Homo sapiens: one gene and its partner. The protein of the gene in region 2 purifies or fractionates together with the protein of the main gene of each other region. This does not show direct contact. Each region holds a gene or a part of one and is shown on either strand. Other genes may lie near its edges. The genes, in order: CPSF3 and CSTF1.

What was found.
Region 1: the proteins of CSTF1 (region 2) and CPSF3 purify together in Homo sapiens (affinity purification with mass spectrometry; 2 studies listed by BioGRID and IntAct, with this or other methods). This does not show direct contact.

Annotation. Positions count from the first base shown.
Region 1 is NC_000002.12:9,426,435-9,433,728, reverse strand, and holds part of CPSF3 (cleavage and polyadenylation specificity factor subunit 3), read right to left. Parts: intron 7,197-7,294; exon of another isoform or gene 7,169-7,196; coding exon of another isoform or gene 7,107-7,168; intron 4,965-7,106; coding exon 4,901-4,964; intron 3,807-4,900; coding exon 3,709-3,806; intron 2,978-3,708; coding exon 2,849-2,977; intron 1,219-2,848; coding exon 1,041-1,218; intron 1-1,040. UniProt on the Homo sapiens protein: Component of the cleavage and polyadenylation specificity factor (CPSF) complex that plays a key role in pre-mRNA 3'-end formation, recognizing the AAUAAA signal sequence and interacting with poly(A) polymerase and other factors to bring about cleavage and poly(A) addition.
Region 2 is NC_000020.11:56,402,484-56,406,995, reverse strand, and holds the end of CSTF1 (cleavage stimulation factor subunit 1), read right to left. Parts: intron 3,529-4,512; coding exon 3,269-3,528; 3' UTR 634-3,268; downstream 1-633. UniProt on the Homo sapiens protein: One of the multiple factors required for polyadenylation and 3'-end cleavage of mammalian pre-mRNAs. May be responsible for the interaction of CSTF with other factors to form a stable complex on the pre-mRNA.

The DNA of each region.
Region 1 (7,294 bases), on a different chromosome or scaffold from region 2:
CAATTCAAAATGTGTAGTTCAGTCAGTAAACGGTTCAGTGCTTCAATTATTTCCTCTAGTAAATGGGAATAATCTATTCCCAGTATCATCTCACAATGATAACCTATATAACATTAATCCACTTGAGAAGTGCTCTGAACTTCTTAGAGAAAAAGGGCATGCAGACAAGGAAAGGAGTGCACTGAGGTACATGGTCTAAAACCGGAGATAAAATCATAAGAGGGTCTGCATCAAATTCCAAGAGAATTCACATCTGCATTTGTGCTACTTATTTTTTGTGCCCTGGAGCAAACTGCAAGAATAAGTGATTTAGTGATATACTTTACAATTCAATGTCTAAAAGTTCCAAATGTATAAGCAGCTGTGAAAAATTTAGGACGTGACACTAGAGCATTGGTTCTCTGGCTGACGTTAGAATCACCTAGCAAACTCGAAAAGGAAAAGGCCAAGCTGCGCCTCCAGATTTTGATTCAACAGTTATTTTCAGCAGCTCCCTAAGTGAGTCTTATTTGCAGCCTGAGTTCAGAGCGGCTGCTCTGGAGTCTGGAAAGCCAGCGGCCCACCCACGTTGTCAGAAGTTCAAGGCTTCCCCAAAGATCTTTCCTAATTAACCCCTTTCACTCTTGCAGTCCACCCTGCTTAGGGGCTTACCTGTGAATTCTAAGACATCAGGGGGACATGAATATCAAATTGTGTTTTAATTTTAAACGAATGCAGCCACAAAGACACCTCTTCCCTAACCAGTTTTCTAAAGCAAACGGAATCCTATGGTGTCAGGGAATCACTTTTTGAGATGTTTATTTTACTCTTTTCTCAGTCTTTAAAAATTTTTTTTTCCTCAGTCTTGATAAAGAAAGTATTGTAATGGAGGTAGGAACTGCAATATTTAAAAGGAACAAGCGTTAACTGTATTTTTATCTTATGTTTCCGTGTTCTGACACTTTGCAAGTCTTAGGGAATTTTTTTTTTTAATAGTACTTGGTGGCACAAAGCTCTGTACTGATTTCTCTGGGGAGAAAAGCGCCACAGCCAGAGGGTACCTTCACGCCTGCGATCTCAATCATGAACATGGCGGCTCCTAGGACGTGACCTGCATGGTAACACCAAAACTTGATTCCCGCAACTTCCTTAACTTCATGAAAGTTGATAGTTTCAATTTTGTCCATGCTTTCTTCCAAATCTGTCTCGGTATACAGCATGTCGTCTGCTGATATGTTACTAAATTTTGAAAGATGCCAGCAAAAACAATTAAGAGTCAGATTTTTTAAAAAGCCTTTGAACACAAAGAAATTGTGGATAACATCTCCATGAAGATATTTCTTTAAAATATACTGTATGAATCATGTATTTAAAATTTCTCAGATATTTTGTGTATTTTTTTTTTACTCTATTGTGTGTATAGCTACAAAACTTGATTTTAAACAAACCACACAGGAAATTAAGACACTGAGCTCAAAGTACTCTCAATTTTCAATAATACATACAATAAATTAAGACAAAATACTCTTTAGGATAGTACTTCTCAAACTTTTTTCCCACCCCAACACTCCTGAAAGATATAACACACTCACATACATTGAACCATGGCAGATATTTCTCACATTAGGATGAGAAAAGATTTTTCTACAAAGTCTAGCACAACCTTTCTCCTGAAAATTATGTTAATGTACTTACAAAAAAGCAAGAGAGAACAGTGGTTAAGGACGCTGACTCTGGAGCCAGATTGTTTGGGTTCAAATCCTTGCTCTGTCTCTTACTGTGACGATTTTAGGCAAATAACCTAACCTCGCTGTGCCTCAGTTTCATCATCTATAAAATGGAATTTATAATAGAACCTACATCATGAGTTGGTGTGAAGATTAAATATATTTATCTCCCGGCTGGGTGCGGTGGCTCAACCCTGTAATCCCAGCACTCTGGGAGGCCAAGACAGACAGATCACCTGAGGTCAGGAGTTCAAGACCAGGCTGGCCAACATGGTAAAACCCCGTCTCTACTAAAAATACAAAAATTAGCCAGGCGTGGTGGTATGCACTGTGTGCCTGTAATCCTAGCTACTGGGGAGGCTGAGACATGAGAATTGCCTGAACCCGGGAGCAGAGGTTGCAGTGAGCTAAGATAGCGCCACTGCACTCCAGCCTGGTCAACAGCACAAGACTCCGTCTCAAAAAAAAAAGAAAAAAAAAAAGAAAAAAAAAATATGTATATTTATTTATCTTTGTGTGAAGTTAATATACATTAGGAATTTAGGATTGGGCCTAGTATGTGGTAAGCATTATTGAAGTGTTAACGAGTGTTACCACAATTAAGCATAACTCTTCCAATCCAGCCTAATGAAGTTTTAAAAGGACACAAAAAGCTATATAAAGACTTCAAGGCCAGGCCAGTGGCTCATGCCTGTAATCCCAGCACTCTGGGAGGCCAAGGCAGGAGGATCACTGGAGCCCAGGAGTTTGAGACTAGCCTGGGCAACATAAGACCCTATCTCTTCAAAAAACAAAAAACTCTGCTGGGTGTGGTGGCACACACCTGTAGTCTCAGCTGCTCAGGAGGCTGAGGTGGAAGGACTGCTTGAGCCCAGGTGGCTGAGGCTGCAGTGAGCTGTGATCACACCACTGCACTCCAGCCTGGATGACAGAGCAAGATCCTGTCTCAAAAAAACCTTCAAGGTCAGGAAGGTGCTAGAAACACAATAGGTTTCAATGACCTTGTTAATGAATGATGAAATTACTGATATCCTTATACATGAAAAGGGAGCACCTCATTTTAAAACACAAAATGGTCCATATCTTGAACCATACATGCCATATAGAGCCAAAGTCGTGTATAATCTAATAAAGTAATTTACCTAACTTTGACATAATCAGAAAGAAGCCATCTATAAATAGCTTTTGTGGCATGAGTCATAAATGTTCTTCCTTTGAAACTTGTCTTCTGTAGAAACCAGGGCAGAGCTCCACAGTGATCCAAATGGAAACTTAAAAAGAAAGAGGCTGCATTAATTCTTAAAATTATTATCCATCAGATACCATGTAATGAAACTGTTGCTTACTGTACAAAACAAGTTTTATATAAACAACTATGTGCTGATACTTTCAGAAAAACCAAGAGTAGGTATGTGTAGAAGGAAGAAGTAATGCATACAGTTCTAAAATGGAGGAAAGATGTTTAAAGTATTGTTTTTAAACAGCAAAAAACTTTATTAGTGAATTAGGGAGGAAGAAGAATATCCCAAGCCTACTCCTGGCAGCCAGAATTACAGCAAACATTTTAACAGAATAAAGTTGAAACATGGATATCTCCCTGAGGTCACTGTCTTGTCACATTTTTCTATATGAACTCTATTTAAAAATAGTTTCAATAAAGGTGAAATGGCGTTCTTATAGAAGAATGTGATAAAACAGTGACCTCAAGGAGATATCCTGGAAAAGGGCTTTCTTAGTCTCAAGTTTTACAATGATTCAAGTTCTGTACTATCTCCTTCTCACATACTCACTGAACTTATACATAGAGGTAGGTAAGTTTTTCATAGCAAACTTCTCTAGCCTGTGATGACATTACGGAGTGTTGGTTTAGACTCAGATGTCTGCAATATGCTTCCTAGCAGAAAACACTCTTTTAAAAAACCAAACTCTCAAAATCTAGTAAAGAATGATCTTGATAGTAAAAGTCCGTGAAAAAGTGTCATTAATAAAGGGAAAAACTTACTGACTAATTAATAGGAGATCAATCTCAGCTGGGTCAATTAAATCAATATAAGGAAGAGCATCCATTCCTTCTAGGCCAGGGTGGATCCCACAGTCGAGCTGAAAGAAACAGGAAAAGAGATCACAATCTCCTGCACATTTTATTAAAATTCATTCGGCAAATAGGCAATAATTCTAGTTCCATCACCCATATACTCAAGATGGACTCCAGGCACTAGCACTTGGAACATGATTCTTATTAAATGTGGCAAATATGCCATTAACAATTCTAACTTCCCAACAAATTTAAAATATAGCTCACATTTAGGGGTCACAGGATGCAAAGTACAAAACAGCTTCTTTCCAGCTACTTTTGGTCGTCATTCTAACAACGAATTAAATCTTTTTCAAAAACTTTGATATCAGATTAAAATTTTAAAAGTTTATAGATTTACTACTACCAGATCGACTCTCGTGAGAAGATAATAATTAGAAATGGGAAACTTACCTGATCAGGGTAATTTAAATATTTTAAGGCATTAGGGAACAAATTCTTAAGACTCAGTCATTAAAGTTACTTATTTTTATGGCGTTACTACCAAATTAACAAAACAGATGACTAAAAGGATGACTATGTCTGACCTATACATGTTCTTTTCAGATTGGGAGGAGTTGAGAAGAAAGAGGAATCAAAGGAATCTGAGACACAGAACTGACTTTCTAATGAGTACCTTAGAAACTATCTCCTCTAACCCCTCTACCTTTCAGGCTTAGAGAAGCAAAGTGACTTGGCCAAGGCCGGCAGCCCCAGTGGGACCTGGGGATCCAAGCTTCTAGGCCAAGGCTTGATCCCCACATGCTGGAGGCGGCTAGAGCTCTCAGTGTGTTCAGAGTGCTTGGGCCCTTGGGATCTTCCACTGGGGGTGGGGCAGTTAGGCTGGCTCAACCCTTCAGGAGTGGAAGAGGGACTTTGAAGAGGTAACAGTTCAACAGATCTAGCTGACAATTTTACAGTCATAGAATATATCTTCTTAATCAACTAAATTACTAAGTAGAAGTGTGTATTAGTTTTTCTCATTAACACTATACAGCATAGATTACATGTACTATAACATTTTTCTGGGAGCTAAAAAGATAACTAGTCTATGAGAAAAGACTAACACCCAATACAGACAGAGCCATACTATTAAACTGAGTACAAAAATAGTAATTACCATTATTTTTCTTCCTTTGAACTCGAGAATAATACATGATCTTCCTACTTCTTGCCCAGCTCCACTGTAAATATTCAAGGGGAGAAAAAGAAGGATTAAAAAAAATCAAAACCAAGTCCAATAAACTTACACTTTTTTACAATGTACACTACATGCCATCTGATGACAGCACCTCACTGAAAAATTCTGAGACGTAAGAGAGTTCTACAAAATCACAAAGACAGGGAAGAACAGTGTCCACATGAGAACAGATGAAAACTGATCCTTGGGAGTCCAGGGATCTTGCAGTTCTTAAAATTAAGAGAGAAGGCGGTACAGATCCAAGAAGCCCAAAGGTTTGGGCTTGATTTAAATTCAATTTTCTGAATTTTAGGATTAAATTATAATGTATTTAAAATGTAAACTAGCAGTTACGCAGATTATATAATAATACTTCTAGAATTAGCACTTAAGTAGAAAGCCATAAGCATTTCAACACTGTCATCTTCTTTAAGATCATAATGTGTATTTGCCAAATGGCTTAAATTTAAATGGCCGGGTGCGGTGGCTCACGCCTGTAATCCCAGCACTTTGGGAGGCCGAGGCAGGCAGATCACGAGATCAGGATATCGAGACCCATCCTGGCTAACACGGTGAAACCCCGTCTCTACTAAAAATACAAAAAATTAGCCAGGCGTGGTGGCGGACACCTGTAGTCCCAGCTACTCGGGAGGCTGAGGCAGGAGAATGGTGTGAACCCAGGAGGCGGAGCTTGCAGTGAGCTGAGATCGCGCCACTGCGCTCCAGCCTGGGCAACAGAGCGAGACTCTGCCTCAAAAAAAAAAAAAAAAAATTTTTTTTTTTAAAATACTTATTCATACTGTGAATTTCAATCACTTTTTCTTCTACTTTCTGTTATTTCAGCATATTTTATACCAACTACTTACATAATTTTTGTTTCTTCTTAATAATTTCAGCCATAATTTGCAATGGTCACAAGGCACACTTTAAGTTAAACCTCATCTTTCAAATCCCTCACCTTCTTTGATGCCTTTTCCCAACCATTCTAGCTCACAATCCACTCACTCACTCAACATTAAGCAGCTTCTATTTGCCAAGCACTGGATTAAGTGCCTAGGACATGGAAATGCCTTACAGGGACCCTGACCTCAAGGAACTCAGTCAGATGGACATGCAATGGATCTATCCCCAAACTGAGATCCTACCTCCAAACAGGTGTTGATACAGAAGATCAAACAACTGTGGATGAGAGCCGCCATAAATTCCTGGCCTTCCACTTTTTAAACATTTTTTATTTGTAATTATTGTGGATACCCTGGCCTTCCACTTTAACTGGCCCTCAATGTTGCCTGGCTGTTTTCTCCATTTCATTTCCATATCAACTATTTTCAAACTTTCTTCCCTTTCCCAAATTTTCCAACCTTCTATCCTCTTCTTCACTTGAGGCATGGGCCATCTTCTGCATCAAAAAAATAAACAGTCCATTTGTAAATTTCCTCAACTTCATGTTGGTACAATAATTAAGAATACATGTACCAACAGGGTACCAACCTGCCCACATCTGTCTCCTTCTATTTCTCCTCTATAGATAGAATAGACCTCTCTTTCCACAATGAAACTTTCCACCATTCTACTCTACGTACTCCCTCCCTCCTTCTGAGGAACTCAACACTGCTGTGTCATTGACATTTTCCTCACTGTCTGCTCTTTACCATCCAATCCAAATTTAAACATACTACAGCCATGTTCATCCCCAAATTAAAATCCCTTGACTCTAAGCTCCTTTAGTTCCCACTTTATTCTTTCCCCAGACCACCTCCCAGGGCAGTGGACCCTCTTGTACTTCCTCACCTTCTACTCGCTCCTCAATTCGCTATACTCTGGCTTTTACCAATCACTTTTCTGAAACTGTCCTTGCTGCTCAGTAGTCATTTCAGTCTTTTTTTTTTTTTTGAGACAAGGTCCCCCTATGTTGCCCAGTCTGGCCTTCAACTCCTGGGCTCAAGTGATCCTCCCGCCTCAGCCTCCCAAGTAGCTGGAACTATAGGTGTCAGTCCCTATCTTGTTCTCTTGGCAGCCGTTGTCACTCCTAAGGAGTACCTGCTCCTTCCTCAAGCACCTCTCCCTTGGCTTCTCTGACCTGATGCTCTCATCTTGTCTTGCTGGCTTTCCTGTTTCCTTCACATATTCAGCCACCTCTGCCTACCCTTTAAATGTTGATATTCCGAGGGTTTGCTCCTTGGCCAACTTCTCAATCTTCATTCTCATCTTTCTGACATGCTAAGGACTTCCAAGCCTGTATTTGTAACCCAGATTGTTCTTCTGAATTCTAGACCTTTAATACATACACGTGACACTAGGTATCTCTACTAGGATCTCTCCCGGGACTTCATA
Region 2 (4,512 bases):
TGACTTGCCCTATTACTTACCAAGTCAGTAACAGAGCTGAGACTGGACTCTCTCACATTGCTCTTCCTAAGGAAAACCAAAGTGTAAGCAAAGATAGCGTTCTCTGAATAAGCCAAAAAACTGAATTATACTCAAGTTCTTTAACTTCACAGAGAGCGGCCGGGCACGGTGGCTCACGTCTGTAATCCCAGCACTTTGGGAGGCCAAGGTGGGCAGATCAGAAGGTCAGGAGTTCAAGACCAGCCTGGCCAACATGGCGAAACCCTGTCTCTCCTAAAGATAGAAAAAATTAGCCAGGCATGGTGGCACGCGCCTGTAATCTCAGCTACTCAGGGGGCTAAGGCAGGAGAATCGCTTGAACCTGGGAGGCGGAGGTTGCGGTGAACCGAGATCGCGCCATTGCACTCCAGCCTGGGCGGCAGGGTGAGAATTCGTTTCAAAAAAAGAAAAATTCATAGAGAGCAGAGGAGCAAAGATAAAGAGCTAAAGGTGATCCAGCTATAAAAACCTGACTTCTGGAACAAAGCACTAAAGAAAGGGTGAACAGTACCAAAGTCATAACTGCTGTTTGAGAACAGATGTTCAAATGTGGGAAATGTTCAAAGTAAGTTCCAAAAAAAATAAACTAGCTTATCATTGTATATAAAGTTTATTTCAGAAATCACGTATCTTAAAAAAAAAAAACACACAGAGGGTATAAGTTCGTATCCTGACCAGATATTCATTATTTGAATGGCAGAGTGTTGTGTGGTACAATTAACGAGATGCAGATACTAAGTCCATATAATATTCCTGGCATTTACACCAGGCTCACAACACTGTGACCTTTAAAAAGCAAAAAAACCAAAAACCAACCAACCAAACAAACACAAAAAAAACAAACCCACAAAAAATGAAAAAACAGCTACTTCTGAAACACATAAAAGTATCTTGATCTTTTAAAAACAGGTCCTGAAACTACAGATCCATTGCTGAGACTACTCGAAAAACTGTAAAACATGGGCATTATTTTAATTCGTGAACAACTGAAAAGATTCAATGGAGTGCCATGTGGTCATTTTAGTATGTGAGTCAAAGCAGAATAATAGGGAAACATTAAATCTCTCCTTTACAGTTTAAGAGGTTGAAAGCAAAAGGAAAGTCTGAAAAAAGAACAGGGGAGGTTTGGTTGGTAATGTTTTTGGTAGAACTGGTTATCCTTGTTCGTATTTAGTAGGTGCCTTTTAGTCTTACGAGAGTAGCACCCACAGATGGCCAAGTTCAAATATCAAAGAATCAGAATGCAAAGTACAACTGGAAATTCACACTGGAATTCAACTGGAAATATGCATCAAAAAATATGGCTCTTTGGAAATCTGAGCTAAAACCCTGTGATGTAACATGTTAAGATGCTTAAGACAGTTTTACAGATCAAGGAGTTAAAACGATCCTCAAGGATGACTAAAACAGAATGTTTACGCAATAACTTCAGTAACTTCGTATGATGGGGCCGCGCGTGGTGGCTCACGCCTGTAATCCTAGCACTTTGGGAGGCTGAGGCGGGCGGATTACCTGAGGTTGGGAGTTCGAGACCAGCCTGACCAACATGGAGAAACCCCGTCTCTACTAAAAAAAATACAAAATTAGCCGGGCATGGTGGCGCACGCCTGTAATCCTAGTTACTCGGGAGCCTGAGGCAGGAGAATCGTTTGAACCCAGGTGGCGGAGGCTGCGGTGAGCCGAGATCGCGCCATTGCACTAAAGCCTGGGGGACAAGAGCGAAACTCCGTCTCAAAAACAAAACAAACAAAACAAAACAAAACAAAACTTCCTATAATATAAAGCAATGACTTTTACTTCAATCTATTTACTATTTTTATCAAATGATCCCAGATTATATTTCTAGGTACTCCTATGCAGATCATAAGGTATTTGTTTTTTGGGATAAATATAAAGCAAAGTTTATGTTTGTACAAGGGGAGTTCAGAGTTCTCTGACTCTGCTAGTGCTGAATCCAGAGAAGTACTGTCATGTTCTAAAAAGCTTCAGGAAGGCTGGGCGCGGTGGCTCACGCCTGTAATCCCAAAACTTTGGGAGGCTGAGGCAGGCGGATCACGAGGTCAGGAGATAGAGACCATCCTGGCTAACATGGTGAAACCCTGGCTCTACTAAAAATACAAAAAAAAAAAAAAAAAAAAAAAAAATTAGCCGGGCGTGGTGGTGGGTGCCTGTAGTCCCAGCTACTTGGGAGGCTGAGGCAGGAAAATGGTGTGAAACCAGGAGGCGGAGCTTGCAGTGAGCTGAGATCACGCCACTGCACTCCAACCTGGGTGACAGAGCAAGACTGTGCCTCAATTAAAAAAAAAAAAATTCAAGAAAAAGAAAACTTGTATCAATTGGTTAACTGCATAAATCTTCTGAGAATGCAGTTACTATGTGCCTCCATGATGAGAAGTTAGTTCATGCTGACGAGAACTGAAGACTTAAAACCACCTAAGAAAGAGGTCAATCGATACTAATCATTCGTGAAGACAGGCAACACCTGAGAGCAATAGCAGGCTGACCTAATTTAATTAGATCGGATATATTTTCAATTGTTTCTCATGAAATCATAATCTTACCAGAAATACAGTTACTAAAGACAAGTATTGCAGATATTGAAGGATAATGTAGGGAGTATGTTGAAAGATACTGTTCCTATAAATTGTCAGGAAAAACTGGCCATTAATTTTACAGAAGTGAAAAATATATAACAATAAAGTTGCAGATCTGAGCTTTATTATCAGAATAACATCATTTCAGGATAGAATTGAGGGATTCTTGAAAATGCTTTTGATAATGGCATAAAACTCAGGAGTCTCAGAGCTGCATGCCTGCTTATCTGTTCAAATATACCTGGAAGGGAAATACACAGAGGGTTCAGCAGAATAAGCAAGAAAGTTGACAGAAGAACCAAATGAAAATTCCTCATGTCAAAAGCACTTTAATGCCCTATCCTCCTTCAATCAAGAGATCAAAAGAAACGGCAAGTCCTGTACTTACAAAACCGATGAAAATCACACTGTAATAATCAGTGAATGTAGAACTGCACAGATCTGTGTTTCCAACTTTTTCCACCATGATTCTACATCAAGGTAAAAAAAGATTCTTTTATACAAATCCAAGAAGAATGTGGACAGAGGTGGCAGCAAAACGTCAAGGATGGTGCACGGACTTACGACTGCAGCTGAGACAGGACGTGGGGGAGGAGGGTAGAGTCCTCGAGAAAGAACCCTACGGAGAGGGTGGCTCAGTCAGTGGTCGATCTCCGGTACCAAAACCGCGCTCTGAAGTCATCGCTGCACGTCATGAACCCGGGGTTGGTGGGGGAGTGCACTATGCAGCGTACAATATTGTTGTGCCCCAACGACAGCAGGTTTCTCCGCTCGGCTGTCCTCGAGTCCCAGCAGCAAAGACTGATCGTCCTCTCGTCGGGCAGCAACACATAGTCCTCGGTGTGGTTAAACACAGCCTGTGTCCGGTGCACCTGGCGTCCACTTAAACCCGCGCCTGCCACAGAGAGCAAGAGGGATAGCTTTCTAAGTCCACATCTTAGACCCTCAGAACGTTCTAGCATTCAATGTAAAAGCATTTTAAACCTGTTGCAGTGATACACCTTGTACACTTTCAGAAACTCTAAAAAAGTACAAAAAAGAAAATCAAACCAGGCACAGTGGCTCACGTCTGTAATCCCAGTACTTTGGGAGGCTGAGGAAGGAGGGCTGCTTGAGCCCAGGAGTTCAAGACCAGTCTGGGCAACAGGCAACAGAGCAAGAGCAAGACTGCATCAGGAAAAAAAAAAAGGAGATCACCAGATCACCTGAAGCAATACTGTTACTGTCCTAATGTACTTTGAGGCATAAAAAAACACATTTTAAAAATACATATAAAATTGTTGCCACTATATTTTTCTATTATAGTTTTAACCAACTTTATGCTGAGTACATTTTTCCATGTTTTTTACTAGATGCAAAGTGCCTCATGTTTAGAAGCCCCATTACTTATTTAACAATTCTTTTGTGTGTGATCTTTTTTTTTTTTTTTTAGACAGAGTCTCACTCTGTCGCCAGGCTGGAGTGCAGTGGCGTGATCTCGGCTCACTGCAACCTCCGCCTCCTGGGTTCGAGTGATTCTCCCGCCTCAGCCTCCCAAGTAGCTGGGACTACAGGTGGACACCACCACACCCAGCCAATTTTTGTATTTTTAGTAAAGACAGGGTTTCACCAGGTTGGCCAGGATGGTCTTTATCTCCTGACCTTGTGATCCACCTGCTTCGGCCTCCCAAAGTGCTGGGATTACAGGTGTGAGCCACCATGCCCGGCCTGTTTAACAATTCTTTTACTTCCTGACATTTAGTTTATATCAATTATAAGTAATGTTGTAATGAACATCCTTTGTACAGAAAGCTTTATTTCCTTAGGAGTAAATTCCTAGAGACAGAATTACTGAGACAAAGTATATGAATATCTACTTTCCAAAAGGAAGCCTTTTTAT